2 separate regions of the Homo sapiens genome follow, and region 2 is linked to region 1. The links come from fine-mapping of genetic effects on gene expression. Tissue or cell type: esophagus muscle. Region 1 holds a variant in brackets; the other region holds the start of a gene. All regions are shown on one strand. Distances are between the middles of the regions.

Evidence for each region. PIP is the estimated chance that this variant, and not a neighbour inherited with it, causes the effect.
Region 2: WNK2 starts here. The variant in region 1 is fine-mapped to the expression of WNK2 in esophagus muscle (GTEx, PIP above 0.99). The same link has a PIP of 0.9 or more in gastroesophageal junction and sigmoid colon.

What each region holds. Positions count from the first base shown.
Region 1 is chr9:93,157,458-93,165,637 of GRCh38, forward strand. No RefSeq gene overlaps it. Among named protein-coding and RNA genes, the nearest start is that of WNK2, 23 kb to the right of the region's middle. RefSeq lists a silencer at 2,656-2,785. The variant C/T (reference allele first, on the strand shown) is at 4,501.
Region 2 is chr9:93,180,752-93,188,921 of GRCh38, forward strand. It overlaps WNK2 (WNK lysine deficient protein kinase 2), which reads left to right and starts at 3,388. Exons shown (of 30, transcript NM_006648.4): 1 at 3,388-3,634; 2 at 4,177-4,859. The coding sequence starts at 4,179. RefSeq lists an enhancer at 5,426-6,391.

The sequences.
Region 1 (8,180 bases):
TCCACCCCACTGATTTAGAAGGTCTGAGGGTGAGGCCAGGAGTCTATATTTTAGCAAGCCTGCTGGGGGCTCTGATGCCTGCTGACCATCCCCGGGTTGTGCGAAATCAGGCTGATACATCTATCTGTAGGTCTCCCTGGCCCCCATCTGCACCACTCTCACATTTCAGTGAACAACTTTCAGCACTGTTAGTTTTCCCCTTTCTATTCGTTTATTTATTTATTTTTATTTTATTTTATTTTTTGAGATGGAGTTTCACTTTGCTGCCCAGGGTATAGTGCAGTGGCAGGATCTCAGCTCACTGCAATCTCCACCTCCTGGGTTCAACAGATTCTCGTGCCTCAGCCTCCTGAGTAGCTGGGACTACAGGCGCCCGCCACCACGCCTGGCTAATTTTGTATTTTTAGTACAGACTGGGTTTCACCATGTTGGTCAGGCTGGTCTCGAACTCCTGACCTCAGGTGATCCGCCCCCAGGTGATCCGCCCCCTCTTGGCCTCCCAAAGTGCTGGGATCACAGGTGTGAGCCACCATGCCCGGCCTTCCCCTTCCTATTTATTTATTTATTTATATTTTTTGAGACAGGGTCTCACTTTTTCCACCCAGGCTGGAGTGCAGTGGTGTGATCATGGCTTACTGCAGCCTCAACCTCCTGGGCTCAAGGGATCCTCCTACTTCAGCCTCCCAAGTAGCTGGGACTATAGGCACACATCACCACGCCTGGCTAATTTTTGTATGTTTAGTAGATACGGGGTTTCCCCATGTTGGCCAGGCTGGTCTCAAACTCCTGGCTCAAGTGATCCACCTGCCTCGGCCTCCCAAAGTGCTGGGATTACAAGCGTGAGCCACTGCAGCTGGCCCCCACTTCCTTTTTAAACAGCTTTAGTAAGATATAATTCACATACCATACAATGCACCCGTTTAAAGTGTATGATTCAGTACTTTCTAGTATATTCACAGAGTGGTACATCTATCACCACAATTTTAGAACATTTTCATCATTCCTATTTATTTATTTATTTTTTTCGAGACAGAGTTTTGCTCTGTCACCCAGGCTGGAGTTCAGTGGCGTGATCTTGGCTCACGGCAGCCTCTGACTCCCGGGTTCAAGCAATTCTTCTGCCTCAGCCTCCCGAGTAGCTGGGACTACAGGTGTGCACCACCATGCCTGGCTAATTTTTGTATTTGTAGTAGAGATGGGGTTTCACCATGTTGTCCAGGCTGCTCTCGAACTGCTGATCTCAGGTGATCTGCCCTCCTTGGCCTCCCAAAGTGCTGGGATTACAGGTGTGAGCCACCACACCTGGCCGCTTTCTATTTTTAAATTTTGAATACTGATGTTTAACTGTTTACATTTTCAAAAGGCCTCCCAGCCATGCCTGTCCCCACTGCCCCACCCAGGCAGCCATGGTTATTTATGTATTTAGGTCTTCTGTTTCCTTCCAGAATGTCTTTTTGTAGATGTGTGAAGCAAACACAAACATAGGCTGTCTATCCACACGGATGGACAAGGGTAGGGGCCTTCTCTCAGTCCCGCACTTTGCTTCTGTCTGTGACTCTTCTGTTTGGTAACAGAACCACTAGGCAGGCCCCTGGAGGGTCGGGGGGCATCTTGGGCAATAGGTTCTGCTTGCAGCAGGAGCAGGACCACGAAGCTTCCAGTCCTTACAGTCAGACGTCAGCATGGGGCTGTGGGCTCCAGGAGAGTGACATTCCTTCTCCCATACTCCCCCAACAGATCCCCGACTCTAAACTCCAGAACCTGGCTCCTGGCTCCTGGGGGTCCTGCCTGGACTTCCCTATGGCTATTTTATTTTATTTGAGATAGGTCTCACTCTGTGACCTCTGGGTCTCACTCTGTGACCCAGGCTAGAGTACAGTGGCGCCATCTCGGCTCACTGCAACCTCCACCTCCCGGGTTCAAGCGATTCTCCTGCTTCAGCTTCCCAAGCAGCTGGGATTAGAGGCATGCACTACTACACCTGGCTAATTTTTGTATTTTTAGTAGAGATGGGGTTTCACCCTGTTGCCCAGGCTAGTCTCGAACTCCTGACCTCAAGTGATCCACCCGTCTCAGCCTCCCAAAGTGCTGGGATTACAGGCGTGAGCGACCGCGCCGAACTTCCCCTATGGCTCTTATTTGCTGTCTGTCTCCCAAGACTGTGAGCTCGCCAGAACATGGTCTCTGTTTCTCTTTATTGCCACGTGCCTGGGCTCAGCAGGGGGTCTGTATGAGGCACATCCTCACAAATGTTTGTTGAATGAATGAGTGAGTCAGTCAGTCAGTCCCTGTTCTAGAGTTTAGTAACCCTAGAACTTTGAGCACTCACTACATTTCCCTGAGCCTTGGTTTTTTCTGTTGAATGGGGATGAGAATCTTGACCTCACAGGGTGGGGGTAGCATGAAATGAGGAATGGCTGTGGTCTAGTGCTGGACCTGGACCAGGGAAGGGGAAATGTTTTCCTTTCCTTCCCTTCCTGGGAAAATGACAGTAGCCTTGAGCACAGATGCTGGTCTGTCAAGTTTATCATTTCTAACTCCCATGTTCTCAGAGCCCCTCATTAAGCCAGTCAGCCTTGATAACCAGCCCGCGCGGACAGGGAGGGAGGGCAGCAGGCGCGTCCCAGGACTGGGACGACAGGGTTGGCGATGCCTACAGCCGCCAGCAGGGGCCGCAGCGCACCTGGGCTCTGAGAGCAGGCCTGGTGTGGGAGGGGAAAGGAGGTGACCAGGGGCCCAGAGGGGAGGGGCAGGGCCTCGGCCAGAGTGTGGCGGTCTGGCCAAAAGATTGATGGCACAAGCAGCCAAAGAAAAAAAAATAGATCAACTGGATTTCATCAAAATTAAAAACTTTTGAGAAGACAACCCACAGAATGGGAAAAAATATTTGCAAGGATCTTATATCTGATAGGTGACCAGTATCCAGAATATAAAGAACTCTTTTTTTTTTTTGAGACGGAGTTTCGCTCCTGTTGCCCAGGCTGGATTGCAGTGGCGCGATCTCGCCTCACTGCAACCTCTGTCTCCTGAGTTCAAGCGATTCTCCTGCCCCAGCCTCACGAGTAGCTGGGATTACAGGCGCCCGCCACCATGCCTGGCCAATTTTTTTCATATTTTTATTGGAGACGGGGTTTCACCATGTTGGCCAGGCTGGTCTCGAACTTCTGACCTCAGGTGATCCACCCGCCTCGGCCTCCCAGAGTGCTGGGATAACAGGCGTAAACCACTGTGTCCAGCCCATAAAGAACTCTTAAAACTCAACAACAGAAAGACAAACAACCCAACTCACAACTGGGCAAATAATCTGAATAGACATTTCTCCAAAGGAGAGATACAAATGGAGAACGAATATGAGGAAGCTGCTTGACATCATCAGTCACCTAAGAAAAGCATACCAAAGCCACAGCACAATACTGCCCACACCCTCCAGTATGCCGACATTAAAACCAACAGGCAGGCCGGGTGCGTTGGCTCATGCCTGTAATCCCAGCACTTTGGGAGGCCAAGGCGGGCAGATCACAAGGTCGGCAGATCACAAGGTCAGGAGTTCAATACCAACCTGGCCAATATGGTGAAACCCCGTCTCTATTAAGAATACAAAAATTAGCCGAGTGTGGTGGCAGGTGCCTGTAGTCCCAGCTACTCAGGAGGCTGAGGCGGGAGAATCGCTTGAACCTGGGAGGCGGAGGTTGCAGTGAGCTGAGATTGTGACACTGTACTGCAGCCTGGACAACAGAGCGAGACTCTGTCTAAAACAAAACAAAACAAAAAAACAGGCATAGGGCAGGTGACATCCTCCAGTGTGCCGGCATTAAAACCAAAACCAACAGGCAGAGGGCAAGTGTTGGCGAGGACCTGCAGAAGCTGGAACCTCACACATTGCTGGTGGGAATGTAAAATGGTGCTGCCACAGTGGAAAACCATTTTGGAGGTTTCTCAAAAGGTTAAACATAGAATGATCTTTTGACGGCTGGGCACGGTGGCTCACACCTATAATCTCAGCACTTTGGGAGGCCGAGGTAGGTGGATCACCTGAGGTCAGGAGTTCGAGACCAGCCTAGGCAACATGGTGAAACCCGTCTCTACTAAAAATACAAAAATTAGCCAGGTGTGGTGGTGGTGCACGCCTGTAATCCCAGCTACCCGGGAGGCTGAGGCAGGAGAATCGCTTGAACCCGGGAGGTGGAGGTTGCAGTGAGCCGAGATCATGCCACTGCACACTCCAGCCTGGGTGACAGAGTGAGATTCCATCTCAAAAAAAAAAAAAGAATTACCTTTTGACCCAGTAATTCCACTTAGACATGTACAAAAACACAGTAGATGAGTGTTTATTGCAGCACTGTTCGCAATCACCAAAAAGTGGAGACAACTGAAATGTCTACCAGCTGGTGAATGGATGAACAAAATGTGATTTATCCATTCAGTGGAATATTATTCAGCTACAAGAAGCAATGAAGTGCTGATGCAGGCTAAACACAGATGACTTGGAAGCAGCTCAGA[C/T]GAAAGAAGCCAGACACTGAAGGCCACATACTGTATGATTCCATTTATATGAGATGTGCCAAATTGGCAAGTCTATAGACAGGCAGTAGATTAGTGGTTGCCAGGGGCTGGTGAGGGGATGATGGGAAGTGACTGCTAATGAGTACAGGGTTTTTAGAGGTGATGAAAATCTTATGGACTTAGTGGTGATGGTCGCACAACTTTGTGAGTATACTAAATCACACTGAATTATATACTTTAAAAGGATGAAACTTATGCTATGTGAATTATATCTCGGTAAACTGTGCTGTTCAGCTTGAGAATTTTGTAGCGGATGGTTGGGCATTTCCCTGCAATGCTGGCCTCTTGGCAACCTCCAGGATGTTGTTACGCATTTCTGCCCAATTTCCAGAACTTTTGACCTTTCTAATTCATGTTCTCATTCATTCACCCCATGATTCTTTCTCTGGGCTGGAATGTAATGGCCGATCTGGTGGTCGGCAGTGTGTCCAGCGAGGCAGAGCTGAGGGGCCGGGCGGTGCAGGCAGAGGCAGGGCTATTCACTGTCCCAGGGCAGTGACATGACAGATGTGAATGCAGTAAGGCACCTCTGGGCAGACACCTGTCAGGGACTTGGGAGGGGCTTCCTGCATCCACTGGAGGTTAGACCTGACCATCCTGACTTTTTGTGTCATGTACAACTTATGCACATTTTCAAAACAATTCCAAAGTTACAAACAATATCTCTGAGTAAATTAACATATTCAACAGAATGACAAATTAATGTTGTGTTACAAGTGGCCCTGCTGCAGAACCATCCAAAGCTGTGTCCCTTTCAGTGAGCTGCTGGCAGGCCTGAGGGCCATGAGGAGGGGCATGGGCAGGCCTGGGGGTTTCTGCTGATCCCTGCCTGGAGTTGGGCCTCTCGGGAGGTTGCCTGGTGACCTGTGAGATGGGGTTGTGACTGGCAGGAACCCAGGTATGAACTAAGTGCCAAGTCATTCCAGCAGCCTCCCCTCATGTGGCACAGTGAGGACAGGGACCTTGGGCAGTGGTAATATGCCAACCCGGTCCCAGCATCCCTCACTGTCCAGGGTTTAGGAAGGGTGGACTCAGGAGTTTGGGGTCTTGGGTGCATAGAACTACAGTAGCTGATACAGCCTGGGCCACCAGCTCCAAGCCCTGCAGATATCCACTCTGCCCCCTCAGTGGCCTTGTGGGACCAGCAGTGCCATGACACCATTTGTAGACAGGAAACTGAGGCCCAGGAGGTGAGGTTGTGGCAGTGCCCCCAGACTAGAGCATCTCTTCCTCAGGCAGGTGTGGCCTGGGGTGGCCTTGGGTAGGACTTGAATGGAGGCCATCAGGCCCCCGGGGTCACACTTCCAGTGGCCACAGCCCCAGCACTCGTCTTGGGCTCAGGGGTTGCCTTCAGAGCCTAGTGGAGGCCTTGCTCATTGAAATCCCATCATGATTCACCTCCAGCGGCTCAGGCTCTGCTGAGGACTGGGGAGGCGCCCAGGGTCAGCTGGACACAGTTCTCATGCTAAGACCTGCTGGCAAGGGAGATGGTGACACTTTAATTGAAGGGCGATGGGCCAGGCGTGGTGGCACACACCTGTAATCCCAGCACTTTGGGAGGCCGAGGCGGGCAGATCACGAGGTAAGGAGATCGAGACCATCCTGGCTAACATGGTGAAACCCCATCCCCACTAAAAATACAAAAAACTAGCTGGGCACAGTGGTGGGTGCCTGTAGTCCCAGCTACTTGGGAGGCAGAGGCAGGAGAATGGCTTGAACCCAGGAGATGGAGCTTGCAGTGAGCCGAGATTGCACCACTGCACTCCAGCCTGGTGACAGAGCGAGACTCTGTGTCAAATAAATAAATAAATAAATAAATAAATAAATAAATAAAAATAAAAATAAAATAAAATTGGAGGGTGATTCAGGCAGGGCTGCAAGCACAGATGAAGGTCACCAGAGAGCCCTGCAGGAACCTCTTCTCTCTGCAGAGGTGACTTTTTAGTTGGGATCTGATTGAGGAGGCAGAACCCACAATTGAGTACTGAGGACAAGGGTGTCGGGAGCAGGGAGGGAGATAGATCCAAAGTCCACGGCTGGGCTCCTGGGGTCCTCGGTGCCCTGCCCTGCCATCCAGCTTCTCCCTGGACACTCTGGTGATAGGGCAGTGGAGACAGGGAAATGGGCCCAACTGAGTCGTGGAATGGCCAGGGCTGGGACAAGCCTTTTACACCACAGAGGCTCACCTTCCCCTTGGTAAGCCGCGATGATGGGACAAATTTCCGCCGCCGGGAGCCACCGGACACTGACTCTTCCCTACATCCCCAGGAGGAGGTGCCGGTGTTGTTTCTGCTTTCCAGTTACGGAGATGGCGGAGCCCAGGTTTGAGCTCAGTGGTGGGCAGGGAGCCTAGCTGTCTTGGCTATGGGAAGGTGCCATGTCCACACCATGCCACACATGAGCTGAGAGCAGGCTCGTGTTGCGGCTGAGGCTCTCCCCTTCCCACGGCCAGACATTTGGAGGCTGGGAGGCCTTGTCCTGACAGCCATGCCATCATTCAGGTGTCCCCACACTCAGGACTCATGTTGGAGCCCTGGGCCCTTACGGTGGGGCAGGAAGACGCCAGCCCCGGTGTGGGCAGTTGGCAGAAAAGCAATAAGAATGACCCCTGACCCGGCCAGTTGCGGTGGCTCACTCCTGTAATCCCAGCACTTTGGGAAGCTGAGGCGGGTGGATCACCTGAGGTCAGGAGTTCAAGACCAGCCTGACCAACATGGTGAAACCCTGTCTCTACTAAAAATACAGAAAATTAGCCAGGCTTGGTGGTGGTTGCCTGTAATCCCAGCTACTTGGGAGGCTGGGGCAGGAGGATCACTTGAACCCAGGAGGCGGAGGTTGCAGTGAGCCAAGATAGCACCACTGTGCTCCAGCCTGGGCGACGAGAGTGAGACTCCATCTCAAAAAAAATAAAATAAAATAAAAAAAAGAATGGCCCCTGACCCGTGGGAAGACTGCTGAGCCTCCCTTGTAACAAGAGACATGGAAATTACTGGTCTTCTCCTAATCTCAAAGTCAATTAACACTCTCCATAGGAGAGGCTGCAGAATGGACACTCCCCTGCCTCAGCTGCAGGGAGTGTGAATTGGTACAGTCTCTCTTGAGTGCAATCTGACAAAAGCTATCAAAATTACAAATGCATAAACTTTTTGACCCAGTAACTTCACTTCTAGGAATTCATCCTACAGAGGGGCATGACATGAGCAAGTCACAGGCTCATTGCAGCCTTATTTGCAAAAGCAGAATGGGCTGGTTACATAAACCATGATCCCTCTGGCCAGGGGGAATGCTACACAGCTGTCAAAAAGAACAAGGACCCCTCATGTAGACTGTGTAGAAGATCTCTGAAGCATAGTGTTAGGCTGAGAAGGAAGTACTGAGCGGCGGCTTCCGCACGCTCTTCCGGTGTGAACAAACGAGGAAAATTAAGCACCTGCACTCTTGTTTGTGTGTAAACTCCAGAAATGAGAGATGGGGTTGTCTGTAAGTGGATGTGTGGTGGGGAATCAGGTAAGGGGTGTGAGAGAGGCTTTATCTTTTATACCTGTTTATACTTTTTTTTTTTCTTTGAGACAGAGTCTCACTCTGTCTCTCAGGCTGGAGTGCAGTGGCATAGTTTTGGC
Region 2 (8,170 bases), 23 kb after region 1:
GCCTGGCCTCTCTGGGCTCTGCTTTTCCAGCACTGTCCTCCCCATCTGATGCCCCTGCCAGGGTATTCTCCCCATGGTGTGACCCGGGGGGCACTCAGGCAAGTGGCCTGGCCACACTGGACCTGAGCACTAGATAGGTTGCCTGACTCCACTCAGAGGCAGAACCTGCCCCACGGGGCAATTGTGGACTGAGCTCCAGCTGGGCATGGCTAGACCCTGCTCTTCCTTCTAGCCAGTGACCCTCAATGGGCCCTGATGTGAGCAGAGGCAGTGGAGCTAGCCCCATCTCCTTTCCTCCCTTCTTTCATGAGCATTTGTTGAATGCCTTTTGTTGCCAAGACTGTTGAGCATGACCATTATGCCCATCTCACAGATGAGCAAACTGAAACCATGGTCCTGTTGCTTGCTGAGGCCCAGCTCCTGGAACTGCATCTGCATGGAGCAGGTGTGTGCCTGCACGTGCCTACTGGCTGGGTAGGCTGGAGCATAGCCTGGACTTGGGAGAAACTTTTTTCACCAAAGGGGCTCCCTGGCATTGTGGAAGCTAAGGTGATAGCTGTGGGTAGAGGTCACTGTCTCCACTCTGAGGCCTTGAGAAAGTTACTTAAAGTTGAAAAATCTCTGGGCAAGACCTCAATGTACTCATCTGTTCTAAACATCGAAGACAAATGCTGCCCCGTAATCCCAGCACTTTGGGAGGCTGAGGTGGTTGGATCACTTGAGGTCAGGAGTCCGATACCAGCCCGGCCAACATGGTGAAACCTCATCTCTACTAAAAATACAAAATTAGCTGGGCGTGGTGGTGGGCGCCTGTAATCCCAGCTACTCAGGAGGCTGAGGCAGGAGAATTGCTTGATCCTGGGAGGCAGAGGTTGCAGTGAGCTGAGCTGAGATCCCGTCACTGCACTCCAGCCTGGGCAACAAAGTGAAACTCCATCTCAAAAAAACAAAAACAAAAGCAGAAAACAAAAAACAAACCTCCAAAAGACAAATGCTGGCATCATGACCCTGGATCATGCAGCCTCAGGACACCCAGTAAAGCAGACTACAGTATTTATACTCCCCGTCTTAGCAGCAGGGAGATGGAAGCTCAGAGATATCCAGTGACCTGCCAAAGGGCATATAGCCAGTGCTGTGAAGTCCTGACTTCCAAGGTCTGTCCAAGGATCCCTCAGGCTCCATCTGCCAGGATCCCAGGAGCTGCTCCTGAGCCCAGCCTGAGATTCCTTGCAGAGGAAACTGTGACCTGTCCACTACTGACTTAGCTGTGTACCCTAATGGTCATGGGTTGGCAGAGAGAATGAGCTCTCCACCATGGGAGGTGTGTAAGCAGAGATGCGTGAATTCACCCCAAGGGCTCAGAGAGCACACAGTACTCTCTCAGGGACAGGCTGTCCCCCACTCCCCACAGCCTGGGCTGCTCCCTGCTGATTTGTGGGTGTAGCCATCCTTTCCCACGCATGTGTACAAGTGTGGGTGGGCAGCAGCCATGGGTGCTGATGAACCTTCTCCGATGCTGGCAGGTATTTTGCCCACACACTGCCAGTGTGGCCTGTTGGGAGCAGGAGGAGGCCAGATAGGTGTGTGCTGGTCTCAGAACACGCTTAGCTCTGTCCCATCCTGGTTTTCCCTTGGATAGGCTTGAACACACCCATCATGAACAGGTCTGTGGACTTGGTGCCCTTCCTAGATTGACTGAATCTACAAGGAATTGGCAGCCTTTTAAGGTGGGCAAGTCAGGATGATCAGCCCACTCTGCAGGGCCAGATACTGAGGCTCAGGAAGGACCAGGACTTGCCCAAGTTCACTCAGCTGGTTAGGGGCAAGGTTGGGGGGTCTTTAGCCTCCAAAGGGAAGACAGAAAAGATCCTTTTCCACCCCTGACCTCTACCTGGAAGACTCCTGCCCCAGGAGATGCAACTTAGATCCCTGTCCCTCAGGCCTCTCTGTCCTGCAGAGCTGGCGTCTGCTGTTTGGCCTCCTCCTCGTGTGAGCTCTGGGCTCATGCCAGCGGACTTGAGCCCCGGAATGAATGCCTGTCTCACACGGTAGATTAGATTATATAAATAACAGGCAAGTGCCAAATGCATAGCCCTACACCTAGCACACTATTTAACCACTGGCTCTCTGGGGAGAAAAGTCCTGATTTGAGGTGTTTGCCAATTTCCGCAGTGTAAATACTCCCAGCATTGCTGACTTCAGGCTACAGGGTGGCATTGCTGAACCCAGAGCTGGGAAGGGATGTTCACTGTTGCCCCTCACAAATTAGTTTCAGCCAGTGCCAGTGCCCAGCGGGGCTCCAGGAAGTCCTGCTTCTCTGGGTAACAGTTGGCCTGGCATATTCTTCCCTCTACATTGTGAAGGTGAGATATCGCCTCTGCTGGCTTTTATGCCACATGAGTTATTTTGTGCCAGGGGCTCCAAGGCCTACAGGCCCACAAGCATCTTTTCATCTCTGGAAGTGTGTGTGTATCTGATGGGGGTGCCAGCCCAGTGGGATGGGGACTGAGATGAGAATACTCTGGTATCTCCCTTGTGCCTCAGTTTCCTCACCTAGGATCATGGAGGCTGGGGTAAGGGTGAAGTGTTAGCTCAGGGCATTGCCTGGAGCAGGGCTCAGAACTTAGCAGTATGGTTACTGACACAGGTCACCTGCTGCATTAGGGCCAGAGACGCCCAAGAGAGGGCTTGTCCGTGGGGGTCTAGAGGAGGAAGGAGCTAGAGATCATGGAAGACTTCTCGGGAGAGGTGGCATCTGGCAGAGGTGGGAAGGAAGAACACTTTGGGTCAAGGGGCTTCTGGAAGCCTCTCCATATCCCATCCAAGGCATTCCAGCTCAGCTTCGGTCTTGAAAGTTCTGGGATTTAGAGCATATAACTTCTGCCTTTGGCGCCTCAGTTTGCTCTAGACTGTGAAATGGGCATAATGATCACCAGTGCCTCCCTGGGTGATGATGAGGTCCTCATGGTTCCTGGTGGTGAAGTGAGGGCAGGAAAGGACACGCTGAGCCCCACCAGGCTTAGCCCCAGGCTGGGCTCCCGAGGGCGGCGGTACCCCTGGTCCTTTTCTTCCTAGCCTGCCCATTCTGTCCTGGCACAGGGCCTTGAGGTCTAGCGCGCCGGGCTGCGGCGTGCTGAGGCGTTGAGCCTGCTGCCTCCTCTCAGGAAGAAACGGGGTCCTCCGCAGCTGACAGCCCTGCGGGGCGTTCCAAAGAACTTCAGAGGACAGGAGCGCTACCTCGAGCAAAGAACCGCGGGTGGGAGCCCAGGTAGCCGGCCCGCAGGTGGCCGCGCGCGCCTGCCAGTCAGCCAGCCCGTCCGCAGCCAGGTGGGCGTGCCAGGCCCAGCCCCCTGCGCCGGTCCGGGGCGGGGCGAACGGAGCCCCGCCCTCCCCGCGCGCCGGGTCGGAGCCGGTGCGGGAGCGGAGCCGCGCGAAGCCGGCAGGAGCACGCGGGAGCGCGGCCCCGCAGTGGCCCGGCCCGAGAGAGCAGCGCGCAGGAGCTGGAGCGGCGCCACGGCCCCCACCCCAGCGCGGACCTCGCCCGGAACTCGGACCCCGTCCTCGAAGCGTGATCTCTCCCGCCTCGCACGCCCTGGCCGCCGGGCCGCGGGCATGGACGGCGTCCGCTCGCCCTGTGAGTGCCGAGCCTCCCCTCAACGCCGCTCGCCGCCTTTGTGTGCGCGCCGCGGCGCTGCAGCCCCCTCCCCGCGCGCCCCTCCCGCGCCCCGGGCCCGCGTCCTTTGTGGAGCCGCCGCCGGGCCACTGCCTTCCTCCCACCCCCGGGCTTCCCTATCCCCTTTACAGCTGCCTCCGGGACAGCCTAGCAGAACCCTCCTGGGCCAGGGCTGGGCAGGGCGCGAGATCCCTCTGCCGGCCTCCGGGGCCCTCAGGGACACCCTAGCAGGTCCTCTCTCCCAGGGTTCCAGGGACACCACAGGCCCGTCCCTCTCCGCAGCCTGGGGCTGAGCAGGGCACGGACCCCTCCTCCCCAACCCAAGCCTCTGGTCCCGTCTGCAGCCCCCCTTTCCCAGGGCCCCCAGAGACGGCCCCCGCAGGCTCTCTCCGCGGCCGGGGCTGGGCAGGTTGCGGGCTTAGGGCGGCGTTGTCTCATCCGGCGGCCTGGGCAGGTGCGGCAGGGCCGGCGCTCACGCGGGCCTGTGTGTCCTTGGCCCACAGAGATGGACGGCGATGGCGGCCGCCGAGACGTCCCCGGCACGCTGATGGAGCCCGGGCGCGGCGCGGGGCCCGCGGGCATGGCGGAGCCTCGGGCGAAGGCGGCGCGGCCGGGGCCCCAGCGCTTTCTGCGGCGCAGCGTGGTAGAGTCGGACCAGGAGGAGCCGCCGGGCTTGGAGGCAGCCGAGGCGCCGGGCCCGCAGCCCCCGCAGCCCCTGCAGCGCCGGGTGCTTCTGCTCTGCAAGACGCGCCGCCTCATCGCGGAGCGCGCCCGCGGACGCCCCGCCGCCCCCGCGCCCGCAGCGCTGGTAGCGCAGCCGGGAGCCCCCGGAGCCCCCGCGGACGCCGGCCCCGAGCCCGTGGGCACGCAGGAGCCCGGCCCGGACCCCATCGCAGCCGCTGTCGAAACCGCGCCTGCCCCCGACGGCGGCCCCAGGGAGGAGGCGGCGGCGACCGTGAGGAAGGAGGATGAGGGGGCGGCCGAGGCGAAGCCTGAGCCCGGGCGCACTCGCCGGGACGAGCCCGAAGAGGAGGAGGACGACGAGGACGACCTCAAGGCCGTGGCCACCTCTCTGGACGGCCGCTTCCTCAAGTTCGACATCGAGCTGGGCCGCGGTTCCTTCAAGACGGTCTACAAGGGGCTGGACACGGAGACCTGGGTGGAGGTGGCCTGGTGTGAGCTGCAGGTGAGGGTGCCCCAGCCCGCAGGGGGCTTTCCGCAGGGTCTGTCCGCGAGTGCGTCCTTGGGCCTGTCCTTGCTCCTGCGCCTGGCCTTAAGAAGCCCTGGGGGCGGCGGGGCTCCATGTGTGTCACCCTCTGTGTGGATGGCTGGCAGGATGCATACCAGGTGTGCGGACGGCATGTGGGGCCTGGCTGTGTCCGTGCGCAGGTTGCGGTTTGTGAGTCAGCTGGTGGCGAGGGCAGGCCTCTGTTGTGCGTTTGGTGTAAGTGTGCACGCTGTGGGCGTAGAGAGGGTCCTGGAGAGTGGGCCTCGGAGGCTGTGTCTCTTAGGCTGCTGCTTCTCCAGTCCCGATGACCTACTTTAATGACCCAGGGAGTCTGGACTGTTGTGTCTTTGCAAAACAGTGTGGAGGCTTCAAGGCCCGGTGTGTGCAGTCAGAGTGTTTTGGGGGCTCTGGGCTGCCCATAAATTAGTACTTTCCTGTGTCCAGCAAGCCGTGGCTGCCCCAGCAGGGATACCTGCAGAGACTTCTTCTGACCCAGGGCCTGTGACCCAGAGGTGGTGCCTGGTAGAGCTCTGGGGACAGCTGGGCAAGGCCTGGAAGTGTGGTTAGTCGCCTCTGCTGCTCTGAGAGCTCCATTTGTTCACAAAATGGACGTGTGAGAGGTCTTAAAACCGAGTCATGCAGAATGCGTGTGGGGGTTTTTCTTGGCTGCAGAGGCTCTGGGCATGCATTTTTCATAATCCTGCCATCACCGTGGTGTCAGCCCCAGCCCTGCAAGATTATATAAACAGCCACCTTAGCTGTCCTGGGACAGCCTAGGAAGCAGAGGCCATGCCTGTCCAGGGGGTGTTTACAGGCCTCCCTCCTTGGAGGTGGGCAGCTGTCAGGCGTGAGCCAGTCTGGGAGAGTGCCGGCTGGAGGTGTAAGTGTACTCTGTTGGCCTGTAAAGTTAGCTGGCTGTCCAGTCCAGGCCTGAAACGGGGCTGGGGCTAGCTGGGGCAAGCTGTGTTCTGGGGCCGCTGGCCACACTGCGGGACTCTTGCATTTTTGACTCAGAAGTGGGATTCAATTGCTATATCCTCCGGCCCCGACAGGGTGGCCTGCGTGTGTGTGCAAGCCTGGATAATTCGGTGGGTGTCGACCTGTCGTCAGCCTTTCTCCCAAGACAAAGAGCTCCAGAGACCTGCCTCTCCACCACCCCTTGGTTCTGCCTTGGAGATGTGGCTTTTCAAGTTAGGGGTCAGTGGCATTGTGTGAGGTCCTTAGGAGGGACTGAACAGCTCCCCTCCCTCATGGTCCTGTAGGTTCTGATGGTACAGGAAAGGCAGTGGGTGGGGCAGGGGGCTGTGATCTGGGGGTCCTGGGGTGTGCTGGGCATTCCTGCTGCAAGGGAAAGCAGAGAGAAGAGAGGGCCTGAAAGGGGAGACGACTCTTGATTCTGGCGAGCGGTCTTCCTGCTCTTGCCCTTCTGACCGGAGCACCCTCAGGTGCTGCCTCTGCAGGGTGGTGGATGGAACAGGGGTGCTGCAGTAGGCTGGATTTGAGTTAGACCTCGGCAGCCAGAGCCTGCTGATCTGGCTGAGGCATCGCAGGCGCATGTGACTCTTGGAGCTTGTTAGTTCCCATTCCCTTTAAGGAAACGCAGGCGATTCTGTCTCTGGGTCTGTCCCCTGCAGGCATGGGGTGGAGCCTGGCCTCTGTCCAGGGGTCTCTTGCTCCTTGACTCTAGGTGGGAACAGCAACCGAGAGGTGCTTCTGGTCTATATGCTTTTTGTCTATATGTTGATGTTCCTTGCCAGGATGTTACTGGTGCCCCAAACTTGTGGTTTCCCTGCATCTCCCCCAAAAGAAGTACCTCCAACATTTGTCCCTAGTCGATGTGTGTCATTTGGGATCAGCTCTCTCTGTGCTGATCTGAGAGGGTTTTCCATGAGAGGGAGTCTGGACCTGCTTAGAATAGCCCCCTTTGCTGAGAACTTGGTGTGTGTTGGGGCTGTGCTGGAAGTCTCGTCATCACAAACTGTGAGGACTGAGGGGAACAACCCCCAAGGTCACCAGTGAGGAGATGGCAGGGCATTGTGGGATCAGGGGAGGAGGGCCCCTGCCTGTGTGTAGAGTGGTGTAGGCTGACTTTGTGCAGAGCTATTGGAAGGACTGATGGGACTGCCTGTGTGATGTCCTGGGTATGGGCCAGGGGCTGCTGGGCGTGTGGAACGGAAGAGGGTGGGGTGTAGGGCTGCAGGGAGATCAGGGGCTGTGGGAGGGGCGTTGGACTCTGCGAGGGGAGTGTGCTCCTGGGTGGGATGTGGGGTCAGGTCTCACTGAGCAGGGAAGGGTGACAGGTGGGTGCTCCTTCTCTAGGTGTGTTGGCTTTGTGTCGTGAGGGGCTCTCTTAGTCCACAGTGTGGAGATGCCATCCTGCACATGACCGCTAGCATTCTGGGCATGGGGAGGGTTCCTGGGAGTCACGCTTTACACTGTAGAGGGAGGGTCTAGGGGGATGTTGCCTTCAGCCAGGAGCCCTTCTTGGAATTGCTCTTGGCCTCTATCCCTTTCTTCCCCTACTCCCGCAGCACCTGCAGTCTGTCCAGGTGCCTGGGCTGTGTTCCCCTTTCTGCCCTCCACAGGCTGGGGGGCCTCCCTGGAGAACTGAGAGGCGCCAGTGGGGCTCACTTGTGTTTTTCAGGGTTCCCTGCCAGACGGGAGAAACGCCTTCATGTGGACCTAGTAAGCCTGGCTTAGAGGACATCTGATTTCCTTTGATAAATTAGTGTTGAAAGAACTCTGTAGAGAGGGTAATATTTATTTATCTCACATCGAAGGGCAGTGAGGTGTTTCACCTTCTGAATTCTCCAGATGTGCAAAGCTGGAACCTGCACTGTTTTTTGTGGGGGAAGCCATTTTAAAATACCTCCCTGTCATTCTTCTCTTGAATAAACTTTTATTCTTGGCAGCAGAACACATTATGGTAACAAGGAAGTAAAACACCAGAATCCCACCGCCTTCCTCCTTGCCCACATGTCCTGTGTTCCTGTGGTCATCTTTGGCCAGCCCTGGTTCCCCCACAGACCCCTGTACTGTCAGACAGGGTGCGGGGTAGCCTGGGGCTCCGTGTCGGCTCTGGGAGCGTCTGCCACCTGCCATAGCCGGCCCAGCTACCCTGGGGGTGCTGATCTGGGTCACTGGCCTGACCTTCTACAAGACCCTCCTCTAGGGGGTGGTGAGGCCACAATACAGCAACGGGGAGGTGCCTGGCGTGGTGCTGTGGCCACCCCTTGCTCTGCCACCTTCTGTTGGGTCAGCACAATCTT